3 linked regions of the Homo sapiens genome follow. The protein of the gene in region 2 purifies or fractionates together with the protein of the main gene of each other region. This does not show direct contact. Each region holds a gene or a part of one and is shown on either strand. Other genes may lie near its edges.

Region 1 (2,901 bases), on a different chromosome or scaffold from region 2:
AGGTTTAGCAACATGTTGGACTTTACCACTCTCGCTTACAAAAGCCTATTTAGCTGTCAAGACTATTAGGTGTCCAACACACAAGCAACAAAGTCCAAGGCTAAGCACACAATAACATATCCTGGGTGAATAAATCAGTCACCTTTTGTCAGACTTGTTGATTTTATTGGAGCTCCTCTATGATAAAGGCAACAAGGAATTTTGTAAATGGAATCTACCTTCATCCTTGAATTACATTTGCTTTACCTGACATCATTTTTCTCTGATCGCCACTCTCCACGGGTACATTGAATGCCTTATATATACTGCCATAATATCCTGTTCTACATCCTTCTATTAAAAGAACTTGTTGTATAACAAATGAGTAGATATTCATTGGACTCACCTGGTCCACCATTTATCCTATCACTAACCAAAATTATTATTATTATAGAATGGTGAATATTTTATTAAAGACTCAATCACAGTGCCAGCTGGAGACAATGGCTTATAAGATTGTACTCATGCTAGAGGATGTGGTGGTGTATCCTCTGAACTAGTAACTAAGTATAAGCTTGTCTGGTGTCTCCCATATAAAAAATACAACAATCTTTGATATTTGTTATGAATGTTGAAGTGACTCCTTTTGTCATTACATCTAATGATCCACTCCAAATACTTGTCTCTTGTCTCTGAGATTCTAGGTTTTTGCAGAATTAGTACCCAAAGGGAGAGTCTTAGCAGTATTCCATTTTACAATCCATCCTTCGTTAGAGGATGAGAGACTTCTATCTAGCCTTTTAGGTTGCCTGAGACCTTTAAACAAACAGTCAAAAATTTAAAATTTAAAATGCGGCTACACTGTTGCATGGGGTAGTAAATCTTGACCTTAAAACTGGTATTTGTAAGAAAAACAGAAAGAATTCAGGGATCCCCTTTGATGGCTCCTAATTCTATACAGTCCTGTAAATATTCCTGAAGACTAACCAGGCGTGGTGGTGCACACCTGTAATCCCAGCTACTCCAGAGGCTGAGGAAGAGAATCACTTGAACCTGGGAGGCGGAGGTTGCAATGAGCTGAGATTGTACCACTTCACTCCAGCCTGGGTGACAGAGCAAAACTCTGTCTCCAAAAAAAAAAAAAAGAAGAAGAAAGAAAGAAAGAAAGAAAGAAAGAAAGAAAGAAAGAAAGAAAGAAAGAAAGAAAGAAAAGAAAGAAAGAAAGAAAGAAAGAAAGAAAGAAAGAAAGAAAGAAAGAAAGAAAGAAAGAAAGAAATGAAGACTGCCAAAGCTTGGAAGCAACCAAGATGTCCTTCAATAAGTGACTGCATAAGCAAACTGTGGTATATTCCTACAGTGGAATATTATTCAGTGCTAAAAGGAAAAAACTATCAAGCCACAAAAAGATACAGAAAAAACAAAGACATTTTGCTAAGTGAAAGAAGCCAGTCTGAAAAGGGTACATACTGTGATTTCAACTATACGACATTCTGGAAAAGGCCAAACTATAAAGACAGTAAAAAGATCAGTGGTTATCTTTGCAGACGCCACCATCGCTGTGAGCCCTGTACTATCAGCCATGGTCAACTCCGTCGTCTTTTTTGACATCACCGTCGACGGCAAGCCCTTGGGCCGCATCTCCATCAAACTGTTTGCAGACAAGATTCCAAAGACAGCAGAAAACTTTCGTGCTCTGAGCACTGGAGAGAAAGGATTTCGTTATAAGGGTTCCTGCTTTCACAGAATTATTCCAGGGTTTATGTGTCAGGGTGGTGACTTCACACGCCCTAATGGCACCGGTGACAAGTCCATCTATGGGGAGAAATTTGATGATGAGAACCTCATCCGAAAGCATACAGGTTCTGGCATCTTGTCCATGGCAAATGCTGGACCCAACACAAATGGTTCCCAGTTTTTCATCTGCACTGCCAAGACTGAGTGGTTGGATGGCAAGCATGTGGCCTTTGGCAAGGTGAAAGAACGTGTGAATATTGTGGAAGCCATGGAGCACTTTGGGTACAGGAATAGCAAGACCAGCAAGAAGATCACCATTGCTGACTGTGGACAATTCTAATGAGTTTGACTTGTGTTTTATTTTCACCACCAGACCCATTCCTTCTGTAGCTCAGGAGAGCACCCCTCCACCACATTTGCTTGCAATATCCTAGAATCTCTGTGCTCTTGCTGCAGTTCCCTTTGGGTTCCATGTTTTCCTTGTTCCCTTCCATGCCTAGCTGGATTGCAGAGTTGAGTTAAGTTTATGATTATGAAATAAAAACTAAGTAACAACAACAACAACAAAAAAGCTCAGTGGTTGCCAGGAGTTTGGGGATGGGTAGGGAGATAAATAGTTCTGAAACAGGCGATTTTTAGGGGATTGAAAATACGTTGGTAATAATGTAATGATGGGTACATGACATTATGCGTTTTGCAAAACTCCTAGACCTGTACCACACAAAGAGTGAACCCTAATGTAAACTGGGGGTGGGATAAAGGTGACAGTATGTGAGAACTCTGTACTTTCTGCTCGATCTTTCCATAAAGCTAAAACTGCTCAAAAAATAAAGTCTATTATTTTGTTAAATGAAAGAAATTAACAATGACCATGGCACGCTCACACAAAAAGATTACCAAGGACATTTCTCTGTCAGGAATGAATATTTGGTCATCTCACAAGGCAAAACCCTGACTAGCAGAGGTGTTAGCTGAGGGCACATGGCCATAGATGCCAATAGTGACCTGCTGGCCACTTGCAGAAAGGAGAGCCTTGACATCCAAACACATTGTTTCTCTTGTATTGTCCTGTGCATACTTATGTATCTTAACAACTTTCCTTCCTTCCTCTCCATTTATCCCTCTTTTTAAAACAGGGCTTATTGAGGGTGATTAACTTAATTTTTAAATGATATATGGCAGAATGTC
Region 2 (3,429 bases):
CAAAGATGAGGGCAGATTCTTTACCTGTCTGCCCTCATGATTTGCCAGCATGAATTCATGATGCTCCACACTCGCTTATGCTACTTAATCAGAATCTTGAGAAAATAGACCATAATGATTCCCTGTTGTATTAAAATTGCAGTCCAAATCCCATAGGATGGCAAGCAAAGTTCTTCTAGAATTCCACATGCAATTCACTCTGGCGACCCTGTGCTTTCCTGACACTGCGAATACATTCCTTAACCCGCTGCCTCAGTGGTAATAAATGGTGCTAGATATTGCTACTATTTTATAGATTTCCTGGTGCTTAGCCTTATAAAAAAGGTTGTAAAATGTACATTTATATTTTATCTTTTTTTTTTTTTTTTTTCTGAGACGCAGTCTGGCTCTCTGTCGCCCAGGCTGGAGTGCAGTGGCTCGATCTCGGCTCACTGCAAGCTCCGCCTCCCGGGTTCACGCCATTCTCCTGCCTCAGCCTCCCGAGTAGCTGGGACTACAGGCGCCCGCCACCACGCCCGGCTAATTTTTTGTATTTTTAGTAGAGACGGGGTTTCACCGTGTTAGCCAGGATGGTGTCGATCTCCTGACCTCGTGATCCACCCGCCTCGGCCTCCCAAAGTGCTGGGATTACAGGCTTGAGCCACCGCGCCCGGCTATATTTTATCTTTTATCTTTTTCTTTGACATTTACCAATCACCAAGCATGCACCAAACACTGCTTTAGGCACTGGGGACACAAAGGGGACAGAGCCATCCTCCTTTGACACCTGGTCTTCAGTTCTGTGCCCAACGTATATAGTTTTGACAATGACCAGGTTGGACTGTTTAATGTCTTTCAACTTACCACGTAATCCTCTTGTAGGGATCACATCTTTCTTTATGATATTGTATTTCTCTACCTCTAACAGTAAAAATTCCATTCAACCCTTAAAGCTCACTTCAAATTCTTCTTTGAGAAGTTTTTCCTTTCTCCGCAACCAGATGTACATATTTGAACTCTCTTTGTACTTGGAGGGCACTTCTTTCGTGGTAGTTCTTTTATTTTTATTAATCTCTGTATCCTTAGATAGTCCTCCAACAACCAAAGGTTGGGACTCTGTCTTACATATCTGGGTGCCCCTCATAGTGCAGTAATAAGTAAGTTGATTATATACGAGCTATGTAACTTATATTTTTTAATGGTTGGATATCACTGAGTTTTTTTTTTTAAGAATTTTTTTATTGAGGTAAACTTCACATAACATAAAATTAACTATTTTAAAGTGAGAAGTTCAGTGCCACTTAGTATTGTTAACAATGTTGCATAACCACCACCTTTATTTAAAGTTCCAAAAAAAATGTTCTCCTCTAAAAGGAAACCCCATCCCATTAAGCAGATACTCTCCATTCCTTCCTTCCTCCAGCCCCCAGCAACCACCAATCTGCTTTCTGTCTCTATGGATTTATCTATTCTTGCTATTTTATATAAATTGAATTGTATGAGACCTTTTGTGTCTGGCTTCTTTCACTTAGTACAAGTTTTTGAGATTTATTTACATAGTAGCATGTATCAACACTTCATTTTTATGGCCAAATAAAATTGTATTATGTGTTTATAGCACAATTTATTTATCCACTCATTCATTGATGGACTTTGGGTTGTTTCTGACTTTTGGCTATTGGGAATAGTGCTGCTATGAATGTTTGTGTACCTGTATTTGTTTGAATGCCTATTTTGCATTCTCTTGGGTATATATCTAGGAGTGGAACTGCTGGGTCATATGTTAATTCTATGTTTAGCTTTTTGAGGAACAGACAAACTGTTTTCCACAGCAGTTGAACCATTCCACATTCCCACCAGCAATGTATGAGAATTCCAATTTCTGTCCACTTCCTCACCAACACTTATTATTTTCCTTTTCCTTTTTTTAAAAAAAATAAGTTATGGCCATCTTAGTGGGTGTGAAGTGGTATCTCATTGTGTTTTTTATTTGCATTTCCTATGTAATGAGCTAGAAACTAAAGTACAAACTAGATGGGACATCCAGTCCCTTTGATAGATAATGCTGAGTAAAAAATGAGATGAAAGACATTTGTTTGTTTTTAGAACACGAGTGACAGTTTGTTAAAAAGCTTTAGAGGAGGAATGAAAACAAAGTGAAGTACACTTAGAAAAGGGCCAAGTGGACATCTTGGATGTCAAGTGCCTAGTTCAGTATCTTTTTTTTTTTTTTTTTTTTTTTTGAGACAGTGCCTCACTCTGTCACCCAGGCTGGAGTGTAGTGGCATGATCTGGGCTCACTGCAACCTCCTCCTCCTGGATTCAAGCAATTCTCTTGCTTCAGCCTCCCAAGTAGCTGAGACTACAAGCACCCACCATCACACCCAGCTAATTTTGTATTTTTCAGTAGAGACGGGGTTTCGCCACATTGGCCGTGTTGGTCTTGAACTCCTGGCCTCAAGCGATCCGCCTACCTCAGCCTCCCAAAGTGCTAGGATTACAGGCATAAGCCACTGAGCCCAGCCCTAGTTCAGTATCTTTTATGTAAATTACAAACATCTGCAACATTATGTATCATATGCAGATACTTATTGCATTTCTTTTATTAGTGGTGAAAGTGTTCTATGCATTTATTGGCTCTTGAATTTCCTCATCTATGAATTGTCATTCATACACCTACTTTTCTGCTTCGTTTTTACATATGTCTTTGCCTATTAAAGATATTATCCCTCTGTTTTATATTTTCTCTCATTCTTGTATTGCCTTTTAAATTTTGTTATGATGTTTCATTAATAAACAGTGTTTTGTTTTCCTCTATAATCAAATCTAGATTTTCCCTTTGTGATTTCCGACACCACTTCCATTCTTAGAAGTACTTTTCCATTCATAAAGTAGTAAAATAAAATAGTTTTTTCTCTAAACTTTTATTTTTGTAATGATTTAACTAATTCACATGGAATTTGATTTTGTATTATTGACATTCAGGAGAAAGCATAATTTTATTTATTAGCCAATTTCTGGATATTGTAAATCTATTTTTCCATCTTTATTCTTCTGGTGAACTTTAGAATAATTTTTTAATACCCAAAGTAATTTTTTTAACTTTCAATTTTTTGGGAGGAAGGATTAGCATGACATTAAGCATATAAATTACTTGAGTAAATTGATGTATTTACAATGTTTAGTCATCTCATTAAGGAAAATGAGAAGAGTCTCCATTTATTCAAGCCCTTTTCTATACTACTTTTATTAAAACTTTTTTTTTGAGTTTTTTTCAATATAAGTCCTACATATCTTTTTTTTCTTGTTATGGCTATTTCTAAATTTTAGTAACAATTTTAAACAAGAGCATTTCCCCTGACCTGATTATGGATGGCATATAAGTAAACCATTGAAGCTTATACATTTATCTTGTGCATGACCAATTTGGTATAGCCTTTTGGTAATTTA
Region 3 (3,659 bases), on a different chromosome or scaffold from region 2:
CAGGGGTAATGCTAGTGCTGAGTTGCCGCTAATAAAGTCAGCTGGAATTACGCACAAAGGAACTTAAGTCCTGCTATTTCTGTTGCAGTTACAACCGGAAGACCCTACCACCTAAAGGCATTTATATGCACCTCAGCACAGTTAGATTTAAATAGATGCACACATAGGACACATTCTTTTTCGTCTTCCCAACAGCTAATGTTTTCTCTACTTTACAGACAAGGCTGAAAAAAGCTAGCTTGATTTAGTTAGTGTCTCTGAGCAAAGGAATCAGGACAAAATGGAAATGCAGGGCTTTGATCTCCAGATCCTTTGCTCTTTCCTCAGTATCTCACCATCCTTCACTTGCCTTCACATGTCAGTTCTGCCAACTGGACAAGGACTGTGACCACTAGCTTTTGGCCCTGACTGTTATGAACACGGTTTTGGGAGATCATCCTGACACATGTGTAAGAATTAAAGAAAGAGGAAAGAAACATGAAAGGTGGCTTGACAGCCAAGGACAGGTTTATTTTAGAGAAAACAAATTTGAAAGGGGCTTCTGGCCGAGTTAGGTCAGAGCCCACTCACTTACAGACTAAGAGTTTTTAAGGATTTAGGGTGGGAGAGTTTATCAGAGGCTTGGATTGCTTCTATGTCTCTTTGCTGTGCTTATCTGGGAGGGAGAGTTGTGTGTCCGTTCCCATACAATATTTCTGCAGCTGTAGGTACACCCCACCCCCCTCCAGTCTGCTTTTAGCTTCCCCACTTAGTGCACCTGAAGGGAAAGGAATGTGCTTATTAAGGCTCATTGTTTTCCTGGAACCCATTGTATGAAGGCAAAGTTTGGCAGTTACCCAAGAGACTTCCCCCACCCCCCCACCTCCCTCTATGCCAGAGCTGTCTTATCTGTATTTTACTCTCTTCTCTTTCTGGCTGCTCGCTGTTAGAAAAGAAGTGATTTCCTTGAAATGCATGAGGCTAGAAAGGGAACTGGAACTTAAAGTGGCGGTGTTTGTCTAAGATGACGGTGTTCCTGCCCTGTCAATATAGATTAGACATTCCCTCTGTCAAGCTACATTCAAATCCACATGACAATCAGAGATATCAGAACAGTGTTCTTGTGAATATTCTTATAACAAATTTACTGTACATGAATTTGACTTTCACATAAATAATTATAAATGCAGGCACCACTGAGAGTTGTTGTTCTTCATTCCTTGACATTTTTTTATGAGCATTCACATATCAAATGAAACACTCCTAATGCCCTTCCACGCCCCAAGGCATTCCAGTTCACCTGGCTGAAGTCAAATCCAGTAAATGAGGACTGTGAGCAGGTTGTTCACATCCCCAGGCCTCAGCTGCCTCATCTATAAATGAAGGCGTTAACCACAGGACTTTGGATCTCCCTATGAGGGCTCACCTTTAAGGATTCAAAATACAGTTCCAGGAATTAACAGAGAAAAAGTTCCTCTAGAAATTGAAAAAAAAAAAAAAAAAAGCTCAAGTACGTAAAAATGCTCAAAATCTTAATGAAGAAAGCATCAAGGCGTCCTTACAGAGCCACTCCCTTCAGGCAAGCCAGACATCCCCTCTGCCAAGAAGAGCCCAGTGATCCTGAGAACAGCTTCAGTTTCTGACACAGCCTCTCTCCTCATGCCTTGGGCCAGAGGAGCAAAGTGTAGTAGCAGTAACAAGGTGGGGACTGTCCACTGCAGTCTACTGCATCTGCCAGCCCTGAGGACATCCGGCCAAGAGAAAGGTGCTGGCCTGTAGATTGAGTCCTGATTCAAGCTTTGCCTGAAGCCAGTGTTATCCACTCCTGGGTTTCAATGTGAAAGAGGCAATAAATTCCCTTCTTTGCTTCAGTCAATTTGAATTGGGTGTTCTGTCAATGGCAACTGAAATGTTCCAACCCCAATATTGAATTTTTTTTTTAAACAAGGTCTCGCCCTGTTGCCCAAGCTGGAGTGCAGTTGTGTCATCTTGGCTCACCACAGCCTCTGCCTCCTGGATTCAAGAGATTCTCCTGTCTCAGCCTCCCGAGTAGCTGGGATTACAGGTGCTCGCCGCCACACCTGGCTAATTTTTGTGTTTTTAGTAATGATGAGGTTTTGCCGTATTGGCCAGGCTGGTCTCGAACTCCTGACCTCAAGTGATCTGCCTGCCTTGGCTTCCCAGAGTACTGGGATTACAGGCATGAGTCACCGCACCCAGTCCAAAATGGAATATGACATCAGGTTGTAAAGTTTCTGCTTGCAGAGCAGCTGAGTGTAAATGAGCCATCATCTTCCTACAGGGAAACCTGTCTCTAACCAAATAAAAACTTCCTATGTGAGCACCTTCCTTACACAAAAGCAGGAAATGGGCCTGGCATAGACCAAATTTTCACCTCACTAGATGTGCAAAAGAGAAGTCTTAGGAAGGGGGAGATCAGAGAGAGGGTGGGTGGACTGTGACCTCACTGTCCAATGTTTAAGGGCATGCAGAGGGGACACAGAATTATAACTAAGGGGTAGTTGTCTAGAGAGGCAATCTAAGCTCAATCTAGGCTAAGAACGTGGTTTTTGAACACCAAGGAACCTTAAAATGCACCTGGTCCCCAGGCCAGGCACAGTATTTCATGCCTGTAGTCCCAGAACTTTGAGAAGCTGAGGTGGGAGGATCGCTTGAGCCCAGGAGTTTGAGACCAGCTTAGGCAACATAGTGAAACCCCATCTCCACAAAAAAAATAAAAAGTTAGCTGTGCATGGACACACACCTGTAGTCTCAGCTACTTGGGAGGCTGAGGTGGGAGGATCGCTTGAACCTGGGAGGTCAAGGCTGCAGTGAACAGTGATCCCACCACTGCACTCCAGCCCAGGTGACGGAGTGACTCTGTCTCAAAGAAAAAGTACCTGCACAAACCAAAGCCAATTACTCTGTCTTCAGAATAGACATCCAAAACCAAGGCTACAATCCAAGTCTTCAATAATGAAAGTTTTCTGGCCAGGTGTGGTGGCTCGTGCCTATAATCCCAGTATTTTGGGGACAGAGGTGGGAGGATCACTTGGGCCTAGGAGTTTGAAACCAGCCTGTGCAACAAAGTGAGATCCCTCCATCTCTACAAAAAATAAAGAATAAAAAAAATCCGGGCACGGTGGTACACACCTGTGGTCCCAGCTACTTGGGAAGCTGAGGCGGGAGGACAGCTTGAGCCTGGGAGGTCGAGACTACAGTGAGCCGTGATTGCCCCCCTGCACTCCAGTCTGGGTGACAGAATGAGACTATCTCCAAAAAAAAGAAAGTTTTCTAACATTTAGACTTGCAAAAGAAAAAGAAAATCAGAATTGACTGTGTCAGAAAACACGGTGTTTCCTGTTTCTAGAATGACAGGTGGAGACCACCGATTCCTGTGCTGGGCAGGAGGCTGGAGGTTATAGCCAATGATTCGTTTGAGGTCTAAGAACCAACAAAAACTCTCTGCTATAATGAAAGTGCATCCAGGGGCACAGGGAATACTAGTTTTTTCCTTAGTGTGAAAGCAGGCTGGGGCATCTGTTTCTTTGTTCCCTGTTTGTCCACTCTTCGACTCACATCATCGTTGACAGCAGTGAGGATGGATAAGATGTCTTCATGTCTGCAACAAAGAAGAAAACAAAATTTTTTTTTACGGAGTCTCACTCTGTCGCCCAGGC

The links.
Region 1: the proteins of SERPINB9 (region 2) and PPIAL4C purify together in Homo sapiens (affinity purification with mass spectrometry; one large-scale study listed by BioGRID and IntAct). This does not show direct contact.
Region 3: the proteins of SERPINB9 (region 2) and CASP10 purify together in Homo sapiens (affinity purification with western blotting, with the first as the bait; one study listed by BioGRID). This does not show direct contact.

The regions. Positions count from the first base shown.
Region 1 is NC_000001.11:149,582,340-149,585,240, forward strand, and holds PPIAL4C (peptidyl-prolyl cis-trans isomerase A-like 4A/B/C), read left to right. Parts: upstream 1-1,508; 5' UTR 1,509-1,558; coding exon 1,559-2,053; 3' UTR 2,054-2,268; downstream 2,269-2,901. UniProt on the Homo sapiens protein: PPIases accelerate the folding of proteins. It catalyzes the cis-trans isomerization of proline imidic peptide bonds in oligopeptides.
Region 2 is NC_000006.12:2,886,640-2,890,068, reverse strand, and holds the end of SERPINB9 (serpin B9), read left to right. Parts: 3' UTR 1-2,799; downstream 2,800-3,429. UniProt on the Homo sapiens protein: Granzyme B inhibitor.
Region 3 is NC_000002.12:201,217,530-201,221,188, reverse strand, and holds part of CASP10 (caspase-10 isoform 1 preproprotein), read right to left. Parts: intron 3,602-3,659; coding exon 3,448-3,601; 3' UTR 1-3,447. UniProt on the Homo sapiens protein: Involved in the activation cascade of caspases responsible for apoptosis execution. Recruited to both Fas- and TNFR-1 receptors in a FADD dependent manner. May participate in the granzyme B apoptotic pathways.